2 separate regions of the Homo sapiens genome follow, and region 1 is linked to region 2. The links come from fine-mapping of genetic effects on gene expression. A gene starts in region 2. The other region holds a variant in brackets. All regions are shown on one strand. Distances are between the middles of the regions.

Region 1 (10,800 bases), 33 kb before region 2:
GGGGCTGAGACCTGGGCAGAGGGGATTACTGCCAAGGCCCTGATCCTGGACAAGCCTGGCAGGGTAGAAGATGAGGAGGTGGCTGGCCAGGAAGCCTGGAGGGCAGCACAGGAAGGGGCAAGGCAGGGAGGGCGAGATACTGGAGAGCCCTGCAGGCAGTGGTGGAGCACTTGTGCTCACCTAGATGCCAGTGGAAGCCAGAGGAGAGTTTCCAGAAGAGAAGAGTCAGGATCTGATAGAGTGGCTTGGACTCTTGTGGGCATAAAGCCCGAGAGGCAAGGGGGTGGGGCAGGAGTGGCTGCACTGAGCACTGGCCTGGCACCAACTCGGCAGCAGAGAGGAGCTCATGTTTTTACAAACAGCAAAGAGAAAGGCTGAGTCCCTGAAAAGGAGAAATACTTTCAAGGGTTTTCTATTAAGAATCTATCTTGGGGCCGGGTGCGGTGGCTCACGCCTGTAATCCCAGCACTTTGGGGGGCCAAGGTGGGTGGATCACGAGGTCAGGAGATCGAGACCATCCTGGCTAACACGGTGAAACCCCGTCTCTACTAAAAATACAAAAAATTAGGCGGGTGTGGTGGCGGGCACCTGTAGTCCCAGCTACTCGGGAGGCTGAGACAGGAGAATGGGGTGAACCCGGGAGGCGGAGCTTGCAGTGAACCGAGATCACGCCACTGCACTCCAGCCTGGATGACAGAGCAAGACTCTGTGTCAAAAAAACAAAAACAAAAAAAGACTCTTATCTTGGGCTGGGCGCGGTGGCTCACACCTGTAATCCCAGCACTTTGGGAGGCCTAGGCAGGTGGATCATCTGAGGTTGGGAGTTCAAAACCAGCCTGACCAACATGGTGAAACCCCGTCTCTATTAAAAATACAAAAATTAGCTGGGCGTGGTGGCACATTCCTGTAATACCAGCTACTAAGGAAGCTGAGGCAGAATAATCGCTTGAACCCGGGAGGCGGAGGTTGCAGTGAGCCAAGATTGCGCCATTGCACTCCAGCTGCGCAACAGAGTGAGACACCGTTTAAAAAAAAAAAAAAAAGAATATCTTGATTTTCTTTCACTATGTAGTGACAATGCATCCAAGTTTTAAAAAGTGGCTCCGTTTCTTTTGGGGCCACAAATAAGCTATCCACAACCACTGGATTTATTATACTCATTGTAGGAGGCTCAGATAAATTTCACATTTGCATTTATTGCTTCCATTATAAAATATAGGCTCATTACAAACATTCTGAAGAAGAAAAAAAAAGTCCACTATCCTAACCAAAAACGGCTTTAGCATTTTGGTGTATTTCTCTTCAGACTTTGGATTAATCCAAAGTTTAATACTGAATGTTTCAAGCATTGCAGAGAAGACGTAATGCTGGTTCTTACTGCCCTAATATATTTTTTCCTAACTCCCCAAGCTTGTTATGCTCTAGTATTTTTTATTCTTCAAAGCATTTTTTCCTCTCAGCAGAAAAAGCTAAAAACATTATTATCTGGTAACAAAGACTGATTCTCCAGAGTTTGCACAGCCTCTAATTAAAAGTTACTTTTTCTATGAAGAACACTTTAATTCTACTGCTTAGAATACAATCTTGAAGGGAAAGAAATCTTAGGTGCTACTGACTTACTGGCTGGGTATACAGATGAGAAAATTACATCAAAGATCCATCTCGGCTTCCTTAGAAATGTTTAATAAGCGATCAGAGTATGCAGTCTGTGCAATTATTGGGAATGGAAAGTCAGTATGGGAGTGTGGATGGGGTAGACCTTACTTACTCATATACCTGCGTGAGGGGGAGTGTCTTTATGATCATCATCTGAAAAGCCAACTAGCTGACAGCCCAAGAGTGCCTGTAAAACCAATCTTAAATCACCTTTATTCTAAAACATCACTGAAATGTCTAAAAATGTGTGAACTTTTTTTTTTTTGAGACGGAAGCACCCAGGCTGAAGTGCAGTGGCGTGATCTCAGCTTACTGCAACCTCTGCCTCCCGGGTTCAAGTGATTCTCCTGCCTCAGCCTCATGAGTAGCTGGGATTACAGGCGCGTGCCACCACGCCCAGCTAATTTTTGTATTTTTAGTAGAGACGAGGTTTCACCATATTGGTCAAGGTAGTCTTGAACTCCTGACCTTGTGATCCATCCACCTCAGCCTCCCAAAGTGCTGGGATTACAGGCGTGAGCCACCGTGCCCGGCCAAACTTTTAAATAATTTCCAGGAGGACATTCCGATCAAAATTGTGATTTTTTTTCTTTTCTTTTTTTGCTTCTATTTTGGATTCCTCGTGCGTCTTGAGACCAAGCAGGAATATGCACTGGTACTTTAGAAAACATTTCATGTTGCACACAAATACTTTCATGATCAGCTTTAATTTAAGGGACATGTAAATAAAAAGATGCATTTGACAGGACAGCAGACTAGTTCAAGCAGGAGGTTAGACCAGTAACAACAACCAAGAAAGCAAAGTGCTCGTTTCCATCTTGGCTTTACCACACTTACAAACTGATACCCAAATAACAGAAATGTTTCTCAAAGCTGCACAAGAATTTTAAGGATTCATGACCCCACTTTCATTAAATAGTCCCAGAAGATAGCTAAATAACATTTTCAGATAGAACCTCACACTGCATAAGTTTCATAACAAACAAACCTAAGATATGCTGACAGAAATCACATTGAGTTTGCAAGCACTCAAATAGAAAACCCAAGACCTCCGGCAACAAATTAGAAAATATGAACAGAAATATTTTAAACCACAAGTATTTCATCCCAACTAAATTCCAATTTCTTCAATGTTCTCTGAGTTGTTAGATTTCAAAGTGAAGAGAACTGAAATCTCTTTTTATTCATAGCAGAGCCAAAACTGGAAGTCACTTATTAAATACCTGTGTACAAAACACCATACTTGGGGCTATATGCGATTTCAGGTTGGATAAACGAGTCATGTTGAATGACAAAAAGTTAGACTGGGGAGATTTATGGAGAGAAGCAAGCACCTGTGATTTGTTGGTTTGGCGTTACAATAAACACTGTAAGTGAAAATGAGTCACAGGCAGTTAGAATGGCGTTAAGGAAACCATTTAGGTCTAAAAATCAGGACTGAAGTGATCAACAGTTAACAGATGAAGCCATGAGAACTGGCACGCTCTGGAAAGGCTGGTGCAGAGAGCAGGACGGTGAGCCTGAGTGAGCCTGGAGTTAGTCAACAGATTCCTCAACAGAAAAGGAGTGAGGAGCAGGGTCAAAGAAATGAAGGTGAATTTGGGGGGTGGTGGTCAATGGGTTAAACGTACAAGTTGAGGCCGAGGAACTGAGGCTGAAGAAGGTTCTGGCAAGTGGAGAACCATGAGATCCTGACAGAGCAGGCTTTTGTGGGCAGAAGCCATATTAGAAGAAGAGCTAAAGGAAAGCTGAAAACCTGGCGACGAAAAGGAAGCCAAGAACATAGGAGATATTTTGACAAAACGGAAAAACAACAGAACAGGAAGTGAGGCAGGAGAACCACAGAGATGGAAGCCAGGAGGTGTCCAATTAGACGGGCACAAGAGAAAAACAGCCAGAGACCGAGAAAACGGCGGGAAGGAAAGGTTCCATCTGGAGAAAAAAGCCTCTCAAGACTGGAAGGGACAGGAGCTGGTGACCATGAAGCAGTTCAGACTCAGCTCTGAGCCCCTTGTGTGGACCACAAGCAGCACTGCAAAGTCCTCGCTGTAGAGAGAAGACCATAGATGCACACAGACGGGGTTATCCCTTGAAACCAGATCCGGGAAGCCATCAGTCAAAAAGCCTGTGTGGTCACAGATGCTTACTGGTGGTTCCTGAAATGAGTATTTCTAGGCAGGGGGCTTCAGTATAAACCAGATGTGTGCTAGCTGGGTGGACTTCAAGTAAGGAGTCAAGACAAAACACTTAGAGTGACCTTTTGGCCACTGCTGTGTCTGCAGGCTCAGCCTCCTCTAGATCTGATTCCCACAGTGGAGGGACAAAGGGCCAGCAGCTTGTAGGACCAAATGAGAAAAATACATAATCATTATGTTTTAGCCAGAAAAAGGCAACTTGATTATGAACTGGATGACATATCAAATGCAAGGCCTTAAAATGCATTCACTCTAATAAACTGCTCTGTAGAATTCAAGGGAATGAAATCCGCTTCTCATACGTACCAAGGACCAACTGCTTTGAATCTTCCACTGTGGATGATGGCAACTGGTCCTTTTAGGAGAGCCATTTTCCAGACAGTCTTGTCTTTATTTATTTATTTTTTAATTGTTAGTAGCTTTTACTTATTATTTATGTACTTATTTTTTGAGACAGTCTCACTCTGTCACCCAGGCTGGAGTGCAGTGGTGCAACCTTGACTCACTACAACCTCCTCCTCCTGGGTTCAAGTGATTCTCCTGCCTCAGCCTCATGAGTAGCTGGGATTACAGGCGTGCACCACCTCGCTCGGCTAATTGTTTTTGTTCTTTTTTGAGATGGAGTCTCGTTCTATCTCCCAGGCTGGAGTGCAGTGGCACGATCTCAGCTCACCACAATCTCCACCTCCCAGGTTTAAGCAATTCTCCTGCCTCAGCCTCCCAAGTAGCTGGGATTACAGGCATGCACCACCACACCTGGCTAATTTTTGTATTTTTAGTAGAGGCGAGGTTTCACTATGTTCGCCAGGATGGTCTTGAACTCCTGACCTCAGGTGTTCTGCCCACCTTGGCCTCCCAAAGTGTTGGGATTACAGGTGTGAGCCACCGTGCCCGGCCTTTTTGTATTTTTTAGTAGAGATGGGGTTTCACCATGTTGGCCAGGCTGGTCTTGAACTCCTGACCTAAAGTGATCCACCCACCTCAGCCTCCCAAAGTGCTGGAATTACAGGAGTGAGCCACCATGCCCTGCCCAGTCTTTATAAATGAAGCTTGACTCTGGACTGTGATAGCAGAAACAAATACAGGCAGTGCCTCAGAGAATACAAAATATCAAGCAAATCCTAAGTGTTGAAGCTAGAACCCAGGTGAGTGCACTCTGCATTACTGAGAATGTGCTCCCTGCCAAAAGGCTCCTACCCTATTCCAACCAAGCCGGAAATGGCAACAGACCAAACGTGAGGAGTGAGTGCCTCTGTGCTCCTTGAGGCTGTTTCATTACAGATAACAAGGTTACCTAGGGCAGTTGTGAAGATGAAATGAGGATGTGTGTGGAAGGGCAGAGCAGATGCTTGATGTTCTCCATCTGAACACTACTCTTGACCACAGTATTTCTCATTCTCCTTTCTGAAATGCCTCTAGGCCTTAAGCGCCTATTTCTATAAATGTTGGGTGATCAGACCAATATGGTTTCTGAAAAAACTGTTCAGAAATAGACTAATTTTCTTTGGGTGGTTCAGTCTGATGCTGAAATAAATTGCAAGATGATTTTCAAAAATAACATGAACCCCAACAGCTTCACTGAGAAATATGGAGCCTCTTCAAACGTGTTTTTAAAAAGAACTGGATGTGCAGGTGTAAGAGATTTATTACAAAACAAAAACTCCCCTTGCCAGCCTTATTACTCTGGCTCATCATTAAAATCCAGTGCTAGCCATATTACATGCCCATCTTAAAACTTTTATCCTTTAGTTACAAAAAGAATACTATGTAGCTTACATATTCAGAATTTACCTACTACCCCACCACATCAAAGTCCATAAGGTACCATATACTCTTCCCCGCCCCATGCTTCATGGGATGTTATTACAGTATGGTGCTTTACAGCGAAAATGAGAGCAGTCACTTAAGCGGCTTACTGAGACCCAGGCAATGTTCTAAGCAGCTACACACAGTAACTCCTAACAACCTTAGGAGGCAGGAACCAAAAGCTGAAGCATCATACAACTTGCCTCCAACTAAGAGGGGATCTGGGGTTCAAACCCAGGCAGCCTGACATGAGCGTTTCCTTTTTTTTTTTTTCTCTTTTGCTAAGTAAAAAGTAGGTTTAAGGGAAGAATCATTTATAGTAACACTGAATTAAGTAAGGGTTTGTAGGTCACAGAATCAGACTATTTAGGGCTGATACTTCAAGCATATCTCAATTAACAAAAAAGCACATTGAGACTCCAAGGATGAACTGCCTTTGCTTAGTGGCCAGGGCACTGTCAAGACCCAGAGGTCTCCTAATTCCCACGCTAGCACACCATACCACCCCTTTGTTCAACCTCACAGAATTGCCAATACTAGCGTATCACCAGGAATACTTACGAACCATACTAACTCACATGGAAGAATGGCAAATGAAAACTGGCCCACATTTTCTTGTTCCTTCTTCAAAGAGTAATAGGGTTCTACCTAATTGTGAACTAGAAGCTGGGGATGAAAAACAAGCCAGATACAGAGCTCACAGTCCAGAAGGAGATGTCAACAAGATGACAGGCTGCCATGGGTACTGACAGAAGTCTACATAAGGGACAGCAGGGGAACAAAAAAAGGCACAGTCAAAACATCTTTGACTGCAATTTGGAGACTTTAAACAAGGATTATCCTTTCTACAGGCATACTGAATTTTCTTTTTAATGCCTCACTGTGCCTATTAAGCAAAATCCGTAATACAACACACCAGACAGAAGCCTTACCCTGTGAGCCGGGCGCAGTGGCTCACGCCTGTAAGCCTGACACTTTGTGAGGCCAAGGTGGGTGAATCACTTGAGCTCAGGAGTTCGAGACCAGCCTGGCAACATGGTGAAACCCCGTCTCTACCAAAAACAAAACAAAAACATTAGCCAGGCCTGTGGTGTGCGCCTGTGGTCCCAAATACTTGGAAAGCTGAAGCAGGAGAATCGCTTGAGCCCAAGAGGCAGAGGCTGCCGTGAGCTGAGATCATGCCACTGCATTCCAGCCTGGGCAATACAGTGAGACCCCATGT[CA/C]AAAAAAAAAAGAAAAAGAAAAAGAAAAAAGATAAAAGCAGCTTTACCCTGTAATCTTAGTTCTAGTACTATCTGGTTCTGTAACCCAAGAGCAGATACTTCACTCTTACCTTTAACGTGAAGATTTATCTTTCAATCCTTTAGAGCTTGAAAATGCAATCAACCCATGAAAATGTTTTTAAAGACCATGATTCTGTTCATCAAGGAGACATTTAAAGGTATGTCATTAACAGAAATTTAAAAGGGTATTGTGGGTAACTGAATTATCATAGATACAATACAGCAAGTATATATGGTATATTCATTACTGAGATGATTTGAACTTTCCATATTCAATATGGAACCTTGAGCAAGCTACTTAAATTCAGGTTTTGTCTATTCCATCTACAAAATGGGAACAGTATCACCTTCCTTCAGTGAGCTGTCGTAAAGGTGTGTGATATGATGACTAGAAAACAAACAGAACACAGCACGTGATTGATGTTTAATAAATGAGTTCCCTTCCCCCTTTCTTAAACTGCAGCAAAGTGGTACCCAAACCTAAGAGCTATTATCCCTAAATTTCAAAATCTAAAAAAAAAACCTTAGAACCTCAGATGATATAATTAACATAAAAGCCCAGGTTTTTGTATAAATGAAAAGGGATAAAAATTCATACAAAATCCATTAGTAACATTCATAAGCACCCGAAATAAATTATTTAGATGTTTGCAAGTCAGCTGCAAGGTGTTCTTCCTCCTCAAATATCCTCTAAGGATGAGCTTATAGACAGATTAACTTAACAACGAAACCTAACATTCCACCAGTAAGAATCTTGTTTGTGTGTGAAGCTGCTTTTTACTAAGTTGGAGGTAAGAGCTCAAAGTAGAGTTTTACTTAAGAAAATTGGGGCAAACATTGATTTTAGTTCTACAGCTATAAAATGATGCCATTCAAAAAGTGAACAGTGGGCCGGGCACAGTGGCTCACGCCTGTAATCCCAGCACACTTTGGGAGGCCAAGGCAGGCGTATCACCTGTGGTCAGGAGTTCAAGACCAGCCTGGCCAAATGACGAAACCCCGTCTCTACTAAAAATGCAAAAATTAGGCAGGTGCGGTGACGGGCGCCTGTAATCCAAGCTACTCAGGAGGCTGAGACAGGGAGAACTGCTTGAACCCAAGAGGCAGAAGTTGCAGTGAGCCGAGATCGCACCACTGCACTCCAGCCTGGGTGACACAGAGACTCCGTCTCAGGGGGCAAAAAAAAAAAAAAAAAAAAAAGTACTATGGAAGTACTTAAGTACATCTGAAAATGTTTTTAAATTTAAACATCTAATTTAGGAACTAAAATACAGGGTCTAGTCTTGGCAAGAGATGGTATGTGTCACTGAGTTTTAAAAAATTATTTCAGTATTCAAATGCACAAACCAAGTCAATTTTCCTTCATATCAAGGGTATGGATATCATTGTACAAGATGAATGCTATATATGAGGCTCGCCTATTACTATATTGATCTACTGTACCTCGAAAATAACACATCATTAAGTAAAGGTGGCAATGTTACATTACCACCATTTACTTCTCCCCAGCACAGCCATGATACAGTTCTAGGCTGATGTGCCACAAATGCACTTTTAAGGCAGTAGTTCTTCCATATTTTTTAAGGTCTAAATTTGCCCTTTCCTCTTATCAAAATCACATTTTCTGAAGGTACTTGAAGTTAAAAACCTTATTACTATCAAGTGAAGCTTCTTTTCTTCTGATTTCTACTTTACTCCTTCCCTGAGGCTTCTACTTCTGAGGTCCCATTTCCTTTTCCTCTCCTGGGACAATGCTTTAGAGGGCAGATTAGCCCTGAAAGTCACCAGCTATGTAAGACCATGAAGTAAATGAGGAAGCTATACAACCAAAGCGAGATCCATGCTTTATGAACACATTATTCTCACACATCCGGGGATAGGTTTGATACACAAGATCCTTAAAGTCATTTTACATATTCTGAAACCAAGTTGTTCAAAAGATGAATTCTGAAAACATAGTTGGTGTAGCAAATGAATATATCAAAACAAAGAAAAACTTCATCCAAATATTTACATTTTAAAAAGACATTTAAAAAATAGGCTACTTATTAAGTGTGCTTGAACAAACCATGTGTGGAATTGAATTCCATTCATTACGGAGTTAGTTTCTGCTAAATACTTACTGATGCTAGAGCAGACCCCTGGCATCTGAGGATTTAAGAGTTCAACTGTTCTCAATCTATGCTAAAAAAAAAAAAATGACAAATAATAAATTCTACATTTCCGAGGCACTAATTTGAACTTCAGAAGTGGGAGGGCTGATATGTAAGGCAAGTTATTTAGGAATGAGGAGGGCTGACAGCTGTAACTCAGTGTGGTTTTGCAGCTGCCTACGTTAGTACCAGGTATTCCATAAAACTCTGTAGAGGCCATTTACATTTCGTAAATTCTGTAATTACACCTTACTGTATCATGCCCTAGTAGTTTCACAAACTTAGATATTCACAAAAATGTTTTGGAATATATTCCTTGGGAATGTGAAGGGTCTCCTATATTACATTAAACAAAAAACCATGCAGTTACTTAGAGCTCATAGAGCTTTCTCAAAATCAACTACTGATCATAACAGCCCAATTAAAAACTCAAACACTTTATATTACAGATATAGAGTTTATAATCCAGCAATGCCAATATAGGTAATTTGATAGCCCCTATTTGCAAAGTGATTAACAATTATACAATAACTTCTATCTGCTTTGGCTCAGATGTTTAAATACTTAAACAGTTTGGAAAGACTTTTTTCTGTGTGTATTTCGTTTTGTTTTTTTGTCTGTGTGGGCATGAGCATAGGGGAGGTTATACTGAAAAGGAGAATGAAGAGGTCAGGAATTAAAGAGCCACTAAAATTTGACTTAACATTTTCTTATAAAATACATGTAGGAGAATATGGCTTAAAGACAAGAGGGGGAGAGCCTCTTAATTGTTCATACTATTTTACTTCACCCTCCATCCAGTCTGACAATAATGCCAAACTTAATTTACAATCTAGGGCAAGAGTAACTCTATAAGAGGATTTTATGAAGTACAATTTAATTTTGGTTCCAGTCTCAAGCACTTAAGAACAATTTTTGGAATCTTTCAGGTTAACTAAAAAGGTTATATCAACAAGCAAAACTCCCAAAAGATTAGGTAAGAAAAAATTAGTTAACTGCTTTAAAAATATCCAACTCACTTTCTTCATTGATTAGGAGTAACTGGGAAATATCTCTGTCCTGATAACTTGGTTTTCTGCTTAGTGTGTGGACCAAGGCAACTTCTCTTTAAAAAGGATGCTTCTATTAAGGAGAGAAAAATTCTCTCTCAAAACAAAACAAAAAAACCTACACACAACTGAGTGAGTAGGTCTAAAATCACTCCAGAGCTACCTCTGGGTCAGAACTAGAGCAACAATGGACAACACAACACAATTTTCACAAATGTACTAGTTTCTTTTTGTTAAAAAAGGGGGTAGGATTAGGTTTCATATATTAAAGTCAGCAGAAATTTCATGTTTCACAATTTGTTGCCAGAGAGATCCCCAAATTCCTTGAAGCCACTGGGAAGTTTTCTGAAGATGCGCATTAAACAGCAGCAAAATACTGAAACAATTCTATTGCTAAAAAGCAGCTACTTCTGCTTCTGCCTTTAGAATACTAATTGTAATACAGTAACAACAACAAAATGCTGATTTGTGCCATCAATTGAAATTTGAGCTATTCCAAAAATTGTTTTCTTTAAAACTGTTCAAGGCAGGACATCAATAATCATAGTGGGTAAATATTAACTGAGTTTTGGGGGAAAAAATCAGAAAATGTCAAAAAGGAAGAGACAACAGCATTATATTTAGTATTCTAAAGACTTGTTTCAGGTAGTTCAACAAT
Region 2 (15,835 bases):
TGCCCACCCAGCACCAAGAACAGTGCCTGGCACATAAGGATTCAGAAATACAACAAGCAAGCAAAAAGAATAAAAACAGAGTAAAAGCAAGCAAGCGAAAAAGAAACTGAGACCCACAGAGATAAGTCAGAAAAGGAAGCAGCAGGTATTCCAAATCTATGAAACCATGAGGTCCAGTGCTATTTCTACTATGTTGTTACCCTTCTAGACTCATGTCACCACGATCCTGAATTGTTAACTATTTCATGTCTCCTTCCCTGTTCCAGAAAATACTTATGCTCTGTTCTCAATGACTGGTGCCTATTCTCCCAACTTCAATTCACTTTGATCACATTAACAAACCTCTAAAAGTTGGGATTTTAAATTTTTGTATAAGGATAAGCTCTAGGCCAGGTGTGGTGGCTCATGCCCATAATCCCAGTGCCTTCAGAGTCCGAGGCATGAGGATCATCACTTGAGCCCAGAAGTTTTAGACTAGCCTGGGCAACATAGCAAGACCCTGTCTCTACAAAAAAAAATTACAAAAATTAGCCGGGCTTGTTGGGGCATGACGGTAGTCCTAGCTACTCAGGAGGCTGAGGCAAGAGGATCACTTGAGCCCAGGAGTTCGAGGCTGCAGTGAGCTATGCTCGTGCCACTGCACTCCAGCCTGGGGAACAGAGCAAGTCTCTGTCTCTAAAAATAAATAAGTAAGGATAAATTCTAGATGTACTATTGATAACGGTTTTGCTGTGTCCCCAACCAAATCTCATCTTGAAGTGTAGTTCCCATAATCTGCACATCGTGGGAGGAACCTGGTGGGAGGTAAATGAATCACGGGGACGGTTACCTCCATGCTGTTCTCGTGAAAGTGAGTTCTCACAAGATCTGATGGTTTTTATAAGGGGCTTTCCCCACCCTTTGCTCTGCACTTCTCCTTGCTGTCACCTTGTGAAGAAGGACATGTTTGCTTCAATTTCTGCCATGATGGTAAGTTTCCTGAGGCCTCCCCAGTCATGCTGAACTGTGGGTCAATGAAACCTTTTTCCTTTATAAATTACCCAGTCTTGGGTATGTCTTTATTAGCAGCATGAGAACAGATGAATACAATTACATACATTTTACATATATTAAATAGTATGTAACACTAACCAAATCTGTGGGTTCATCTTCTTCTACCTCGGCTTCATCATCTTCATCCTCAATTATGGAATCTTCTACTGTTTCTTCATCCTCTGTAAGATCTTGTGCCACTGCTAACAAGCCTAATGATAAAATACAGAAAAAGCAGTTACCCTTTACTCTGAAATACTAATTTCTTTTTTTAACATCAGGTATAGGCAAAAAAAACTTCCCTTGGACTAACAGAATCTCCCAGTTCACCTGAATGATGCCAATTACAATGCACCGAAGAATATTTATATTTTAGTTTACTAGTAGTCTTAACAACTGCATATCAATTTTTTTTTTTTTTTTTTAAGAGTCAGGGTCTTGCTCTGATGCCTAGGTTGGGAGTACAGTTGTGCAGTCATAGCTCACTGCAGCCTCAAACTCCTGGGCCCAAGTGATCCTTCCACCTCAGCTTCCTGGGTAGCTAGGACTAGAGGCGTGAACCACTGTTCCCTGCCTTCCATGTTATTTTTAATGGGAAATGTGGTTTAACTTCAAAAAGTGCCCAACAGATGGAAAAATGAATGGCACAAACTAAAGATGCCTTGAAGCACAAAGAACTTCAAGCAACTTTGTTAAGCAAATTAAGGAAAATAATTTTTTGCAAAGATAAGAAACTTCTAAATGTAATCCCTGTCATTAACCATACAAAGCAAACTAAACAACCCCCACGTTTAAAAGAAAACAGCATTCTTGGCCGGCGCGGTGGCTCACGCCTGTAATCCCAGCACTTTAGAAGGCTGAGGAGGGTGAATTACTTGAGGCCAGGAGTTCAAGACCAGCCTGGCCAATACAGAGAAACCCCGCCTCTACTGAAAATGCAAAAATTAGCTGGGTGTGGTGGCACACACCTGTGGTTCCAGCTACTCCAGAGGCTGAGGCAGGAGAATCGCTTGAACCCAGGAGGCAGAAGTTGCAGTGAGCCAAGATTGTACCACTGCACTCCAGCCTGGGCGACACAGCAAGACACCGTCTCAAAAAAATAAAAATAAAAAAATAAAGCATTCTTAAGTTCTAATGTTCTATGTAGGAAACACTGTTATCAGAGGTGACTACAGCTGAAACTCTTAGAACTGGATAGTTTGTAAGCCAAGGAACAAATATCTGTAATCATATCCATGGTAAAAACTGGCTTGCATGAAAAACATTGTTTAGTAAAAACTGTATTGGTAGCTTCAGGTTTGATAGCAAAGAAAGAATCCAATTATTTTTGCATGTGGCTTCAAACATGTTTTAAGATATTTTTTCTCAAACTTAGTGTTACAAAGTACAGGTATAATGCAAAAAAAAGGTGAATCACAGTTTTATAGACAATAGTACTCTAAGTAAGTCACATTATATCTATTTCAGGCAAGACCATAAAAAGAATTTCAAAGTTCTAGTGTCTTCCAACATCTCTCAGAAAAAATGATGATGTGGCAATTCTGTGGATAAAAAACATGGGAAGGGAAGCGTGTTTTCACCCAGGAGAAACAGTTAAGGACCATGCATTTGCAGTCTTTTCCATGTCTTTAAGTTCTCACTGGCTGCTAAGATTTATTGCAAAATATTAAAGAACACTGAACCATGCATTATGAACTAAAGAGATTTCACTGCCTGCTGAACAAAGCCTAAAATAGTGCATTCATAACTTACAAGTCCTTTTCAAAAACCAGTAAGAAAAATACCATGTCTGATATAGTAATTTAAAGTCGTGGTTAAATTTGAGCACTTTGGAATATAAAGGCCTTTCATAAATATTAAACAATTTTATTATTTTAATGTTAACCAATAACAATTTTGTCCCCATGAAGTCTAACAGTCTTCATTCAACTGGAAAAACCAAACACAAAAACCGTTTCTCACAAAAAATGTTTACAAGATATTAATTCAGTTTAGATAATGAATTCATGCTTCTTGAAAGTTTTTATAACTTGAAAATAGTTATAAATAGTTCTAAAACTAAAACTACATTTGTCAAGTTTTCTTTTAAAAAGCTTAAAGAGTACCAGCAAACGACTCCTAAAGTAAAAAATCTTGTTAAACCTGCAGATTAACTCATTAACAGTTGTTTAATTCTCCCACTTGGTTTTCTAGCCATTAAACAGAAGCCAGTCACTTCACTTTTCATCGCAAAACAACTCGTGAATACCTGTCACTACCGTTAAGACACACAGCTTGCTTAAACTTACAGAATGAAAGGGATGCTTAGTCAGACTAATTATTTCACTTTACAAATTAGAAAGTCGAAGTTCACGACAAAACCTGTGCAGGAAGTCAAGTTGCCATATTTTTATATTCTGCTAAGTTATTTTCACACTTAATTGCTGGGTTAATTGTTGAAAGAATAAATCTATGTATTAAAAACACTCGAAGTAGGCCACATTTTTTCAGCACAATACGATGTTTCCACAAACAAAAAATTGTTCCATGGAAAGACAAGAAGAGGAAGAAGGCAGAAGGGAGACATCCCACAGGGATTCTTCAGTCTGCTTGGCAGCAGGGGCGGATAACGGGGGTGACGATGGGGTAGTTTTTCTGAAATCAAGCCTCCTAGTAACACATACGGGTCAAGCAGGGCGTGAACAAGGCAGATGACCATTGAACAAGACACTCTGATGGCTTAGATGTGTAGAAAACAAGGGTTTTGGCAAATGAATGAAGACGGACTCCCGGCGTGGAAGCTAAAGACACGTCAGCCCTGAGCGCGAGGGGCTGGGGGTGGAGCGGAGCCGGAGGTGGCCAAAAGAAACAGCCCGGCTGCGGCGCGCTCGGAGCGCAGCCGTGTCCAGCGCCTCCTCCTGCAGCCGAGGACCCTCCAGTTCTGGCCGCTCCTGCAGGCGAGGGTCCAGGGCAAGAGGAGCAAGCCCAGCCCTCGGCCGGCCACGAAGCAAGGTCGCCCGGGCACGGCCCCGCGCTCCGCGTGCAAGGGGCAGGCCGCAGCGGGGTCTCCAGCGCCCGCGGGGACCCCTGCTGCTACGAGCCTAGGCTTGGGGAGAGGGCGGAGAGAGGCCAGCGGGGTGGACGCGGACCCCAGGACCCGGAGCGGCCACCGCCTCCAACTTCAAACTTGCCATCACTGGCATCTCCTTCCTGGCCATCCCCTCCGCACACTCCCCCAGCCTCACCTCTGGGGCCGCCTCGGAACAAGACAGTGGCAGGGAACACGAGTAAGAGAAGCAGCAGCAAGCGGGGGAGGAGTCTCATGGCGCTGCCGGTCCAGTGTCCAGTTTCCGTCGGCTAAGGCTCTCGGCGGCTCCGGCGGTAATGGCGTTACTCTTCATCCGGGCTCCGGGCAGCGAGGGGCGGGACACGTACCGCGCACGGGCCTTTGCCACGCCCCTCCCTGGACCAGGGACCGCCGCCGACGTGGCTGCTCAGCGCGGAGAGGTGGGGAGAGCAGGCCACCGGGAAGTCACGTGGCCGGCTGCTGCCTCTTTGTGGCTCCCGCGAGAGTCCGCCTTCCGCCGCAGTTGCGACCCGGCAGCTTGCGGTTAGCCGTTCTTTCCGCCCAGTTCTTTACTTCCAATTAATTAGCATTGTCAGTGGTTACTTTATTTGAATGACGATCCTCTTGATAACGGCGATGTAAGGAACATGAGCTGCCTTTATGTGGCACTTAAAAGCAAAAAATTTTGTTGGAAGAGAGGACATTGTTCAAAGGAAAAACCATGAAAATACACAGTGGAAAATCTTTGTCCCCTGTCTGCCCACACCCTCTCCCATGGTTAAGTAATGACAATTCTTAAATTATTATTTTTGAGACGAAGTCTTGCTCTGTCGCCCAGGCCAGAGTTCAGTGGCACCATCTCTGTTCACCGCAACCTCCGCCTCCCGGGTTCAAGCGATTCTCCCGCCTCAGCCTCCTAAGCAGCTGGGACTACAGGCGCGCACCACTACGCCCGGCTAATTTTTGTATTTTTACTGGAGACGGGGGTTTCACCATGTTGGCCAGACTAATCTCAAACTCCTGACCTCAGGTGATCCACCCGCCTGGGTCTCTCAAAGTGCTGGGATTACAGGTGTGAGCCACTGCGCCTGGCCAGCAATTCTTAAATTCGTATGTGACATTCCAGAATTATAAGTCACCTAAACAGTGTTTTGGTATGTAGTCAGCATTTGTAACTATACAATAGGTGCAGCAATGGCTGTCCAGTTTTCTTTAGTTTCCTTTTCATCTATTTTGGATTTGAGTTGCTGGAGTAATATAGCAGTTCATGAAATTAATCTGAATATTAAGTAATCTTGGTCTGGACCAGAGTGAGATGTCATAAAGATGAGGAAATAAATCATATGCTTACTATTGTCAATCACCTCCTTAGAGCTGTGCTTTTTCATTTAATTTTCTAAACCTCTCTATGAGCTGGATATTATTTACTGAGGAGAAAACAGACCCAGAGAGGTTAGTAATTTACTCAAAGCTTCAAAACGCTAGCAAACGGCAGATGCAAGATTTGAACAAGGCTATCTGGTTCCAGATTCCATACACTACTGACCTAGGACATTTGCTGTTCTACTCCTGCATTGTTTCCGCTTCAGGTCTCCTTGTCCTGGGGGCTGTAAATGCAGCTTGGACCCACTGCCACCACTACCTACAGTCTGCTAAAGTCACAGCCTGATGGTGCTGGGCTGAATCAACCAAATTCCACTCTGCCAGGCCACCAGTGGCACCGCTGCTGTGTTGCTGCTGCTACTAGGGCGCCCAGCATAAGTGGAGGGCCTCCTCTCACTTTGCTGCTGCCTCTGCTCCTGTGCACGCTACCAGTGTTGCCACTCTATGTCAGAGCTGTGTCTGGAATAGGGTTCTTGGTCTCACTGACTTTAAGACTGAAACCGCAGACCCTCGTGCTGAGTGTTACAGTTCTTAAAGTCCAGAGTTTGTTCCTTCATCATGTTCGGATGTGTTCCGAGTTTCTTCCTTCTGGTGGGTTCATGGTCTCACTGGCTCAGGAGTGAAGCTACTAGACCATCGCAGTGAGTGTTACAGCTGTTAAGGTGTCCATTCCTCCTGGTGGGTTCATAGTCTCGGTGGCTTTAGGAGTGAAGCTGCAGACCTTCGCGGTGAGTGTTACAGCTCATAAAGGCAGTGAGCAGCAGCAAGATTTATTGCAAAAAACAAAGCTTCTGAGAGGTGACAGCATGCTGGCAGTACTCAGCCCTCGCTCGCTCTCGGCGCCTCCTCTGCCTGGGCCCCCACTTTGGTGGCACTTGAGGAGCTCTTCAGCCCACCGCTGCACTGTGGGAGCCCCTTTCTGGGCTGGCCAAGGCCGGAGCCAGCTCCCTCAGCTTGCCGGGAAGGTGTGGAGAGAGGCGTGGGCGGGCGGGAACTGGGGTTACGCGCGGTGCTTGCCAGCCAGTGCGAGTTCCGGGTGGGCGTGGGCTTGGCGGGCCCTGCAGTGGGAGCGGCCAACTGGGCCAGGCGGGGGGCAGTGAGGGGCTTAGAACCTGGGCCAGCAGCTGCTGTGCTCGATTTCTCACCGGGCCTTAGCTGCCTTCCCGCGGGGCAGGGCTCGGGACCTGCAGCCCACCATGTCTGAGCCTCCCCCAACCCCATGGGCTTCTGTGCAGCCGGAATCTCCCCGACCAGCGCCACCCCCTGCTGCACGGTGCCCAGTTCCTTCCACCACCCAAGGGCTGATCAGTACAGGTGCACAGGCATGGGACTGGCAGACAGCTCCACCTGCAGCCCCAGTACGGGTTCCACGGGGTGAAGCCAGCTGGGCTTCTGAGTCTGGTGGAGACGTGGAGAACCTTTATGTCTAGCTCAGGGATTGTAAACACACCAATCAGCACCCTGTGTCTAGCTCAGGCTTTGTGAATGCACCAATCGACACTTTGTATCTAGCTACTCTGGTGGGACCTTGGAGAACCTTTGCGTCCACGCTCTGTATCTAGCTAATCTAGTGGGGACGTGGAGAACCTTTGTGTCTAGCTCAGGGATTGTAAACGCACCAATCAGTGCCCAGTCAAAACAGGCCACTCGGCTCTACCAATCAGCAGGGTGTGGGTGGGGCCAGATAAGAATAAAAGCAGGCTGCCCTGAGCTTAGCAGCGACAACAGGCTCCAGTTTCTTTCCATGCTGGGAAAATATCTGTTCTTTTGCTCTTTAAGCTCATATTGCCTTTATGAGTTATAACACTCATTATGAAGGTCTGCAGCTTCGCTCCTGAAGCTAGGGAAATCACGAACCCGCCAGGAAGAATGAATAACTCAAGATATGCCACCTTAAGAGCTGTAACGCTCACTGTGGAGGTCTGTGGGTTTACTCTTGGGCTAGTGAGATTACAAGCCCACCAGAAGGAAGAAACTCCGGATACACTGCCTTTAAGAACTGTAGTACTCACTGTGAGGGTCTGTAGCTTCATTCTTTAAGTCAGGGAGGCTAATGAGCCCCCAATTCTGGACACTGGAGTGGGACCTGAGCAGGTTGCCACTGATTCAGGCAGCCTGCTTTTTTTTCCGTTTATTTGGCTTCACATTCTGCTGGTTGGTTTATTTTAGAGCTGATTGGTGTGTTTTCAATTGGTGAGCTAGACACAAAGTTCTCCATGTCCCCACTGGGTTAGCTATACACAGAGTGTCAATTGGTGTGTTCACAAACCCTGGGCTAGACACAGTGCTGATTGGTACATTCACAATCCCTTAGTTAGACATTCTCCAAATCCCCACCAGATTAGAGTGCCAATTGGTGCATTCACAAACCCTGAGCTAGATACAGTGTGCTGATTGGTGTGTTTATAAACCTTGAGTTAGATACAGAGTGCTGATTGGTGTGTTTATAATCCCTCAGCTAGGCAGAAAGATTCTCTAAATCTCCACTAGATTCAGGAGCCCAGCTGGTTTCACCCAGTGGATCCCACACCGGGGCTGCAGGTGGAGCTGCCTGCGAGTCCCGCGCGGTGCGCCAGCACTCCTCAGCCCTTGGGTGGTCGATGGGACTGGGCGCTGTGGAGCTGGGGGTGGCGCTCGTCGGGGAGGCTCAGGCATGGTAGGCTGCAGGTCCCGAGCCTTGCCCCACGGCGGAGCAGGTAAGGCCTAGCGAGACATAGAGCACAGCAGCTGCTGGCCCAGGTGCTAAGCCCTTCACTGCCCGGACCCGCTGGCCGCTCCGAGTGCGGGGCCCGCCAAGCCCACGCCCACCCGGAACTCGCGCTGGCCCACAAGCGCCGCGCGCAGCCCTGGTTCCCGCCCGCGCCTCTCCCTCCACACCTCCCCGCAAGCTGAGGGAGCCGCTTCTGGCCTTGGCCAGCCCAGAAAGGGGCTCCCACAGTGCAGCGGCGGGCTGAAGGGCTCCTCAAGCGCTGCTGGAGTGGGCGCCAAGGCCGAGGAGGCCCCCAGAGCGAGCAAGGACTGCCAGCACGCTGTCCCTGCTTTGAGGTGACTGTACCTTACAGAGTTCTCCACTGACTCAGCATAATCTCCCTCCCCTACTTTGAGGCACCCTTTCATGAGTTTCAAATGAGACCTGCTCTGAGCTTGTTGATGTCTGACAGGTGTTTTGACAAATACATCTTTCTGTTTAACTTGCTACTCTCTCCTAACACCAAAAACAATTGATGGGAACTGTAATAGATGGTGAAGTTACAGACTTCATGCTGTACTCAAAATCACACCTGCTCTCCATCACGGCACCACCGTGTCTTACTGGCTTGCTTTCCCCATTCAGAGGACTGATTACTGAAGGGGACGACGTCTCATTCTTTATGGTAAAGAGATTCCTAGTAGGTCTGTCTCACCGGTTCTCAGATGTTTAGACGTAGCCTGAACATGTAAGGATAATTTAGTTTAGGCTTAACCTGTGACTTCCACTCCAATGATGATGTCATCAATCGATTACTATCGGATTTTATTTGGGACTTGAATTTTACACAACCAGCTACTATTGGTACAACAGGAAAAATAAAGTGTGCCTACTCGAGATATTACTGATGTGATGAATTTAGGGAAAATAACATGTAAACAGAAAACAGAAGACCTGTGTGACTGTCCAATTAGTATTAAAAAATGACAGCTGTGATCAAGGAAGTAAGGGGCTCACCCTGACCAGTGTGCTCACCAATTCTGCATCACTGTGATCCACATTCTTCCCGTAATAAGCAGCTTTTCCTTGGTGCCCACCCAGAGCTCTCTGCCCTACTTGGTTCCAATCCTTAATTTATGGAATTATGAATTCCATTTACTAATTTATTTAAGTCTTTCCAAATCTCTCCCCATGTCTGTACCAATCTCTTTGAAGGGATTTCTTTTCAGGGAATATTCCATATCCTGGTGACTCTCCTTCACAGACCTCAGACAAATCCGTAGTTGATTCTCCACATCTGTCATTTCATTCCCTTAGAATGTGTAAAAGCAGAGGATTCTTTCCCTTTGATTACTTAAGATTTCCCTCCACATCACTCACAAATGTGTTTGTTAAGTACTCGTGTTTGTTCTTTTATACCCCCACCAAGTAACTGTGTGGCCAAGAAACTCCCTCATGTCCTTTATTTTTTTGAGATGGAGTCCTGCTCTGTCACCCAGGTTGGAGTGCAGTGGCACAATCTCGGCTCATGGCAACCTCTGCCTTCTGGGTTCAAGCGATTCTCCTGCCTCAGCTTCCAGAGTAGCTGGGATTACAGGCACCCATCACCACGCCCGGTTAATTTTTGTATTTTTAGTAGAGACGAGGTTTCACCATGTTGGTCAGGCTGGTCTCGAACTCCTAACCTCAAGTGATCCACCCCCCTCCCCTCGGCCTCCCAAAGTGCTGGGATTACAGGTGTAAGACACTGCGTCCAGCCGCTCATGTCCTTTAAATCTTTGCTCAACTGTCACCTTCTCAGTGAGGCTTACCTTGACCTCTGCTTTAAAATTCCAACCCTCCTGCCCCCACATTCTCCATTTCCCTCTGTTCTCCTCTTGTTCATAGTACTGGTTATCTCCTCTCACAATATAGTTCAGCCTGTCTCCTGTTGGTCACCTGTGAACATCTTGTGGCCAGGGAGTTTGTGTCTTAATGTTATAGAAGGGTGCCTGACAACCAGTGTGAACTCAGTAAGTATTTGTTGAATCAATGAAGGTATAGTGTTGTTACAAGTCACATCTTTCCTCCATAAATTTGAACCCAAGTTTGATTGTAAACCTAATAAGAAATGAAAAAACATTGAGTAAAAAACCCCAAAAACATTATGTTTATTATATATAAGCAAACGCTTAAGCATTCTTTCATGTAGCAAGGGCAAAAAAAAAAAAAAAAAAAAAAGAATTAGCTTTTGTGAACTATACCTCCAAGGAAAAAAACTCCTTTATAATCCTTATGAAAAGAGGGCACTATGGGAAAGGAAACAAGAAATAAGAACGACTTTAAAGGGAGTGCTGGCTCTCCAGCCCACCTCCTCACTTAGGAAGGCCTCCAATCCTTCCCCAGCACATACTTCATAGAAAAGAACAGATGAAGTCATAACTACCTGATCAGTCACCACAAGACCCCCCACTTACTTGCATCCTTGTGCTCAGGCTCTGCCTTTTTTTTTTTTTTTTTTTTTTTGTGAGATAGGGTCTGGCTGTGTCTCCCAGGCTGGAGTGCAGTGAAACAGTCATAGCTCATTGTAACCTTGAACTCCTGGGTTCAAGTAAATCCTCCTGCCTCAGCCTCCCAAGTAGCTAAGACTACAGGCACACCACCATGCCCAGCAAATTTTTTTTTTTGTAGAGATGGGGTCTCGCTATGTTGTCCAGGCTGGTCTCCAACTCCTGGCCTCAAGCAATCCTCCCACTTTGGCCTCCCAAAGTGCTGGGATTACAGGTATGAGCCATCAGTCCTTTCAGTTACAATAAAACGATGTTTAGAGGCCCATCAAAGGCCAACCACCATTTGTGGTTTAGATCCCATCTCCTGCTCAAGGACATGAGATTCTGAAAATAGCCCCCTCTTTTCTCCCTCACAATACATTTCTACTTCTCTAATTCATTATTTGAACATCAACAGACAAATATAATATTCCCTGTCTTTAAAAAAAAACTCTCTCGGCCTTGGTTCCCCTTCAGCAATAGTCTAATTTCTCCGCTCCCTGACACAGTAAAGCATCAGTATTTTACCCCTCCATTTTCTTCTCAGTCTATTCCAACTGTGCTCTTATTTTTAACACTTCACTAAAATTTGCTAGGTCTAATGGCCCTCATGTGAGCCTTTCCTCCTCTCATTCTTGAGCACTTGTTTCTCGAGGCTCACCGACATCCATGCTTCTGGTTTTCCTTCCACCTCAGCAACCCCTCCTTCTTCTCTGCTTGGCACCTAAATATAGGCCTGCTAGAATGGGCACACTGTCTACTCTCTGTGTCTACAGGTTCTGTATTCTTGGATTCAACTGACTGCAGATCAAAAATATTGGAAAATAAATAAAAATCAGAACAATAAAGATACAAATAAAAGTATAACAGTTTACATAGCATTGATGCTATGTTAGATATTATAAGTAATCTAGAGCTGATTTAAAGTATATGGAAGGGTGTGTGTAGGTTATGTGCAAATAGTATGTCATTTTTTTTTTTGAGATGGAGTCTCGCTCTGTCGCCCAGGCTGGAGTGCAGTGGCACCATCTTGGCTCACTGCAAGCTCCACCTCCAGGGTTCACCCCATTCTCCTGCCTCAGCCTCCCGAGTAGCTGGGACTACAGGCACCCGCCACCATGCCTGCCTCATTTTTTGTATTTTTAGTAGAGATGGGGTTTCACCGTGTTAGCCAGGATGGTCTCGATCTCCCGACCTTGTGATCGACCCGTCTCGGCCTCCCAAAGTGCTGGGATTACAGGCGTGAGCCACTGCGCCTGGCCAAATAATATGTCATTTTAAGGAACTTCAGCACCCGCAGATTTGGGTATACATTGGGAGTCTTGGAACTGGTCCCCCTCGGATACTGAGGGATAACTGTACTACATAAGGCTGGGAAACTCACCTGCTTATATTCTGTAAGAGGCCTTAGAGGACACTCCATTTACCAAAGCGATGAGAAATGCACTGGTGAGAGGGGCTGAGAAGAACATTGGTCAGCTGTGCTCTGGAGGTCTGGGCTCAGGGCAAGAGATGCCGTAATGGAACTGCACTGACAGCAGTGGGAGTAAGGATGGGAATGGAGGCCAGACGGCATCACCTAATGGTCAGCAACAATGTGGGCACACTGCTCACAATTCTGCAGGGTCAGAATAGGGGAGAGGGGCTGGGGAACGGGCAAGGGGAGTAACCTGTAGAGAGTTATGGTAATAGCTGATAAAACGCCTTCCTAGAGGCAAGACAGATGGGCACCCAACAACAGCATTGTTTAGTTTATACAATTAAATAAATCAAGAGGCCGGGCGCAGTGGCTCACGTCTGTAATCTCAGCACTTTGGGAGGCCAAGGCAGGTGGATCACGAGGTCAGGAGATCGAGACCATCCTGGCCAACATGGTGAAACTCCGTCTATACTAAAAATACAAAAATCAGCCAGGCGTGGTGGCACGTGCCTGTAGTCCCAGCTACTCGGGAGGCTGACGCAGGAGAATTGCTTGAATGTAGGAGGTGGAGGTTGCAGTGAGCTGAGATTGTGCCACTGCACTCCAGCCTGGAGACAGAGCGAGACTCCATCTCAAAAAAGAAAAAAAAGAAAAAAAGAAATCAAGAAAAACCAGGAGGCTGAGGGCAGTCATCCCAATAAAAAGTTTTGATACTGCTGTGGTCTGAATGTGTCCCCTAAAATTCACATGATAATATTATAAGAAGAGGAGCCTTTCGGAGGTGATTAAGTCTTGAAGTCAGAGCCCTCATGAATGAGATCAGCAACCATATAAAAGCTCTGGAGAGAACTAGCTAGGCCCTTTTTGCCAGTCTTGATTTTTTATTATTATTAGTTTTTGAGACGGAGTCTCACTTTGTCACCCAGGCTGGAGTGCAGTGGCACGATCTCAGCTCACCACAACCTCCGCCTCCCAGGTTCAAGTGATTCTTGTGCCTCAGCCTCCTGAGTAGCTGGAATTACAGGCATGCGCCACCATAGCCAGCTAATTGTTGTATTTTTAGTAGAGACGAGGTTTCACCATGTTGGCCATGCTGGTCTTGAACTCCTGACCTCAAGTGATCCACCCACCTCAGCCTCTTGAAGTGCTGGGATTACAGGCACAAGCCACTGCACCCGACCTGCGTTCTTTCTGCCATGTGAGGACACAGCATCCATCACCTCTGGTGGCCACAGCAACAAGGAAGCAGAGAGCAGCCTTTACCAGACTCCGAACCTACTGGCACCTCGATCTCAGATTTCTAAACTCTGAGACTGTGAGAAATAAATTTCTGTTCTTTTTTTGTTTGTTTGAGACAGAGTCTCACTCTGTAGCCAGGCTGGAATGCAGTGGCTCAATCTCGGCTCACTGCAACCTCTGCCTCGCGGGTTCAAGCGATTCTCCTGCCTCAGCCTCCCGAGTAGCTGGGACTACAGGCGTGCGCCACCACGCCCAGCTAATTTTTGTATTTTTAGTAGAGACAGAGTTTCACCATGTTGGCCAGGATGGTCTCCATCTCTTGACCTCGTGATCTGCTTGCCTTGGCCTCCCAAAGTGCTGGGATTACAGGTGTGAGCCACTGCGCCCGTCCTAAATTTCTGTTCTTTATAAGTTACCCAGTCTCAGGTATTTTGTTACAGCAGCAGGAACGAATTTAGACAGCTCCCCTTCCTCCACTGGGCCTGACCCAATTATCAATCCCAGAACTGAAGCAGAAGTCAGGTTCCTATGACAAAGAGCCCTGAAGCACCACCACAACTGCCATTTAGTATTGAATACCACCACTACTCCCCTCCGCAGCCAAAATTAAAAATTAAAAATACAAACCAATCACATCAGTGGGGAATGGTAGAGGTGTGTGTCACCTTCAAAGGGGTGGTGGTCTGTGTTAAATCCCAGTTTAATTTGCCAGCTTGCCCCTGCAAAAACTAGATAGTTCATAGGAGATGACAGCAGAATACTAAAACTTTCCCAGGTAGCAGCCCCGATGCCTCAAGCTCAAACACAGCAGTTGATCACAGTTTGTCCTACCAACCCTTCTCTTGGATGTTCCCCAGGAAGAAGATTGATCAGAATCCTTGGGAAACATGGGGTGGGAGCAGTGACGGACTGCAAATAGGATGGAGGAAATTTGGGGATGGGGTGATGGAAATATTGTAAAACTAGATTGTGGTGATTATTGCATGACTATATAAATTTGCTAAAAATCACTGAATTGTATACTTAAAATAGTTGAATTTTACAGCACATAAATCATCCCTCAATAAAGGGAAGAGTATAGAAAATACATTTATTGGTGGTAATAACTTGTGTATTTATGTACTATAGGTTTTATGCCTCTTCTTCCAGTTACCAACACTCTTTCATTAGGGGATCAAATCCTCCCATCAAACAAGTGGAGACATGCCCAGTGGAGCAGCTTTGCTGTGAAATTTTGAAAATTGAAAACTCTTCTCCCAGCACCTTCTTTGGCCCTTGGCCCCATTTATGATAAGAATCCTCCACTGTATTATAGTGTTGAATTTTTACCATATTGTGCCCACTAGACTTTTATAAAAATATATTCTAATTGTTCTTCATGCACATTTAACCTTGCTAAATACAGGATGATCTTTGTCCAGTTTCACACCTTACCCCTAAGGTGCAATCATAATTCATACTAATTCCCAAAGTCCTTTGCAGTTTTTTTCAGACTGGATCTGCTAGATTTGAATTATATAGGCGGCTCACTCTTACCAAGAGTTGCATTTATATAGGCGAATGTTAACGATCTTTGAAAGATAGAACATAATATACAAAACATTTATATCCTTAAACAATATTAGCACAGTCCTGTAACTCTTCTTAAACTAGAGTGACTATGAACTTAGTTTCCTAAAACAGATGTTATGGAGGAGCCAGGGTTTGAATCTGAATCTTATGATTCCCTGTCGAGTGCTCTTTTTCCTATTCCGTACTATCTCTCCTGCATTATAATTTAGGGAAGAATGTGCTAAGTGCCATTAAAAAGTCAGATAAAACAGACGAAAGAGGCATTTCAGATGAGGATGAGGGTGAGATCTGAATTAGATCTCAAAGGGTACAAATGTTTTAAATATGAGGTACTGCATGGTGGATGTGAAGAAAGGAGAGCTTTTAGTGGGCAAGGAAAGTGCATTCCCAAAAAAGGAAACAATATGGGGAAAGGCACAGAAGTTTGGGCCCAGAGCATGGAAGGCAATGAACACTGACTATGGAGTAAGGATTTGAAAACCTGTCCATAAAATATATTTAAGTGAATTATGACACATATCCATGAAATATTATACAGCCTTCAAAAATCAGAGTTATGAAGACTGGAGATACAGGAAAATAGCTATCAGAAACACTATGAGTTCAGATAACCTACTTAGGATAGTGTGTGAAAGTGCCTTGTAAACTGCAAATAACAATTTTTGGAAGGTTTATCATGGGGAGTGAAAAGAGAGGAACCATGATAGCTTTAGAAAAGAAAAGGGTTGCAGGAAGGATATTTTTTAAAGGCTAGGGTAGGGTTCAATGAAGAGTTATAAAGGAAGGTGTGAGAAGATACAAATGATTGCCGGAGCAAATCCTCAAGGAGATACGATGGGTCAGAGTCAAGAGGACAAGAGACCAAACAGACCAGAGGAAAAAAGAGGAAAGTGCGTAAGTCCACAGACGGGAGAGGAAACTGCGTC

Alleles and levels. Alleles are on the strand shown, and positions count from the first base shown. SD is a standard deviation of normalised expression in the study named.
For the expression in fetal neocortex of the gene that starts at base 4,414 in region 2, C is the low allele of the variant in region 1 and CA is the other (small effect, 0.37 SD a copy in Walker 2019).

What was found.
Region 1: its variant is fine-mapped to the expression of SSR1 in fetal neocortex (Walker 2019, PIP 0.95).

Annotation. Positions count from the first base shown.
Region 1 is chr6:7,278,799-7,289,598 of GRCh38, forward strand. It overlaps SSR1 (signal sequence receptor subunit 1), which reads right to left. Exons shown (of 8, transcript NM_003144.5): 8 at 2,345-10,800. Among named protein-coding and RNA genes, the nearest start is that of SSR1, 29 kb to the right of the region's middle. RefSeq lists a silencer at 2,944-3,144. The variant CA/C (reference allele first, on the strand shown) is at 6,880.
Region 2 is chr6:7,308,786-7,324,620 of GRCh38, forward strand. It overlaps SSR1 (signal sequence receptor subunit 1), which reads right to left and starts at 4,414. Exons shown (of 8, transcript NM_003144.5): 1 at 4,257-4,414; 2 at 1,132-1,244. The coding sequence starts at 4,335. RefSeq lists enhancers at 3,578-4,446, 4,447-5,313, 4,650-4,719, 4,730-4,789 and silencers at 3,870-3,919, 4,050-4,159, 15,812-15,835.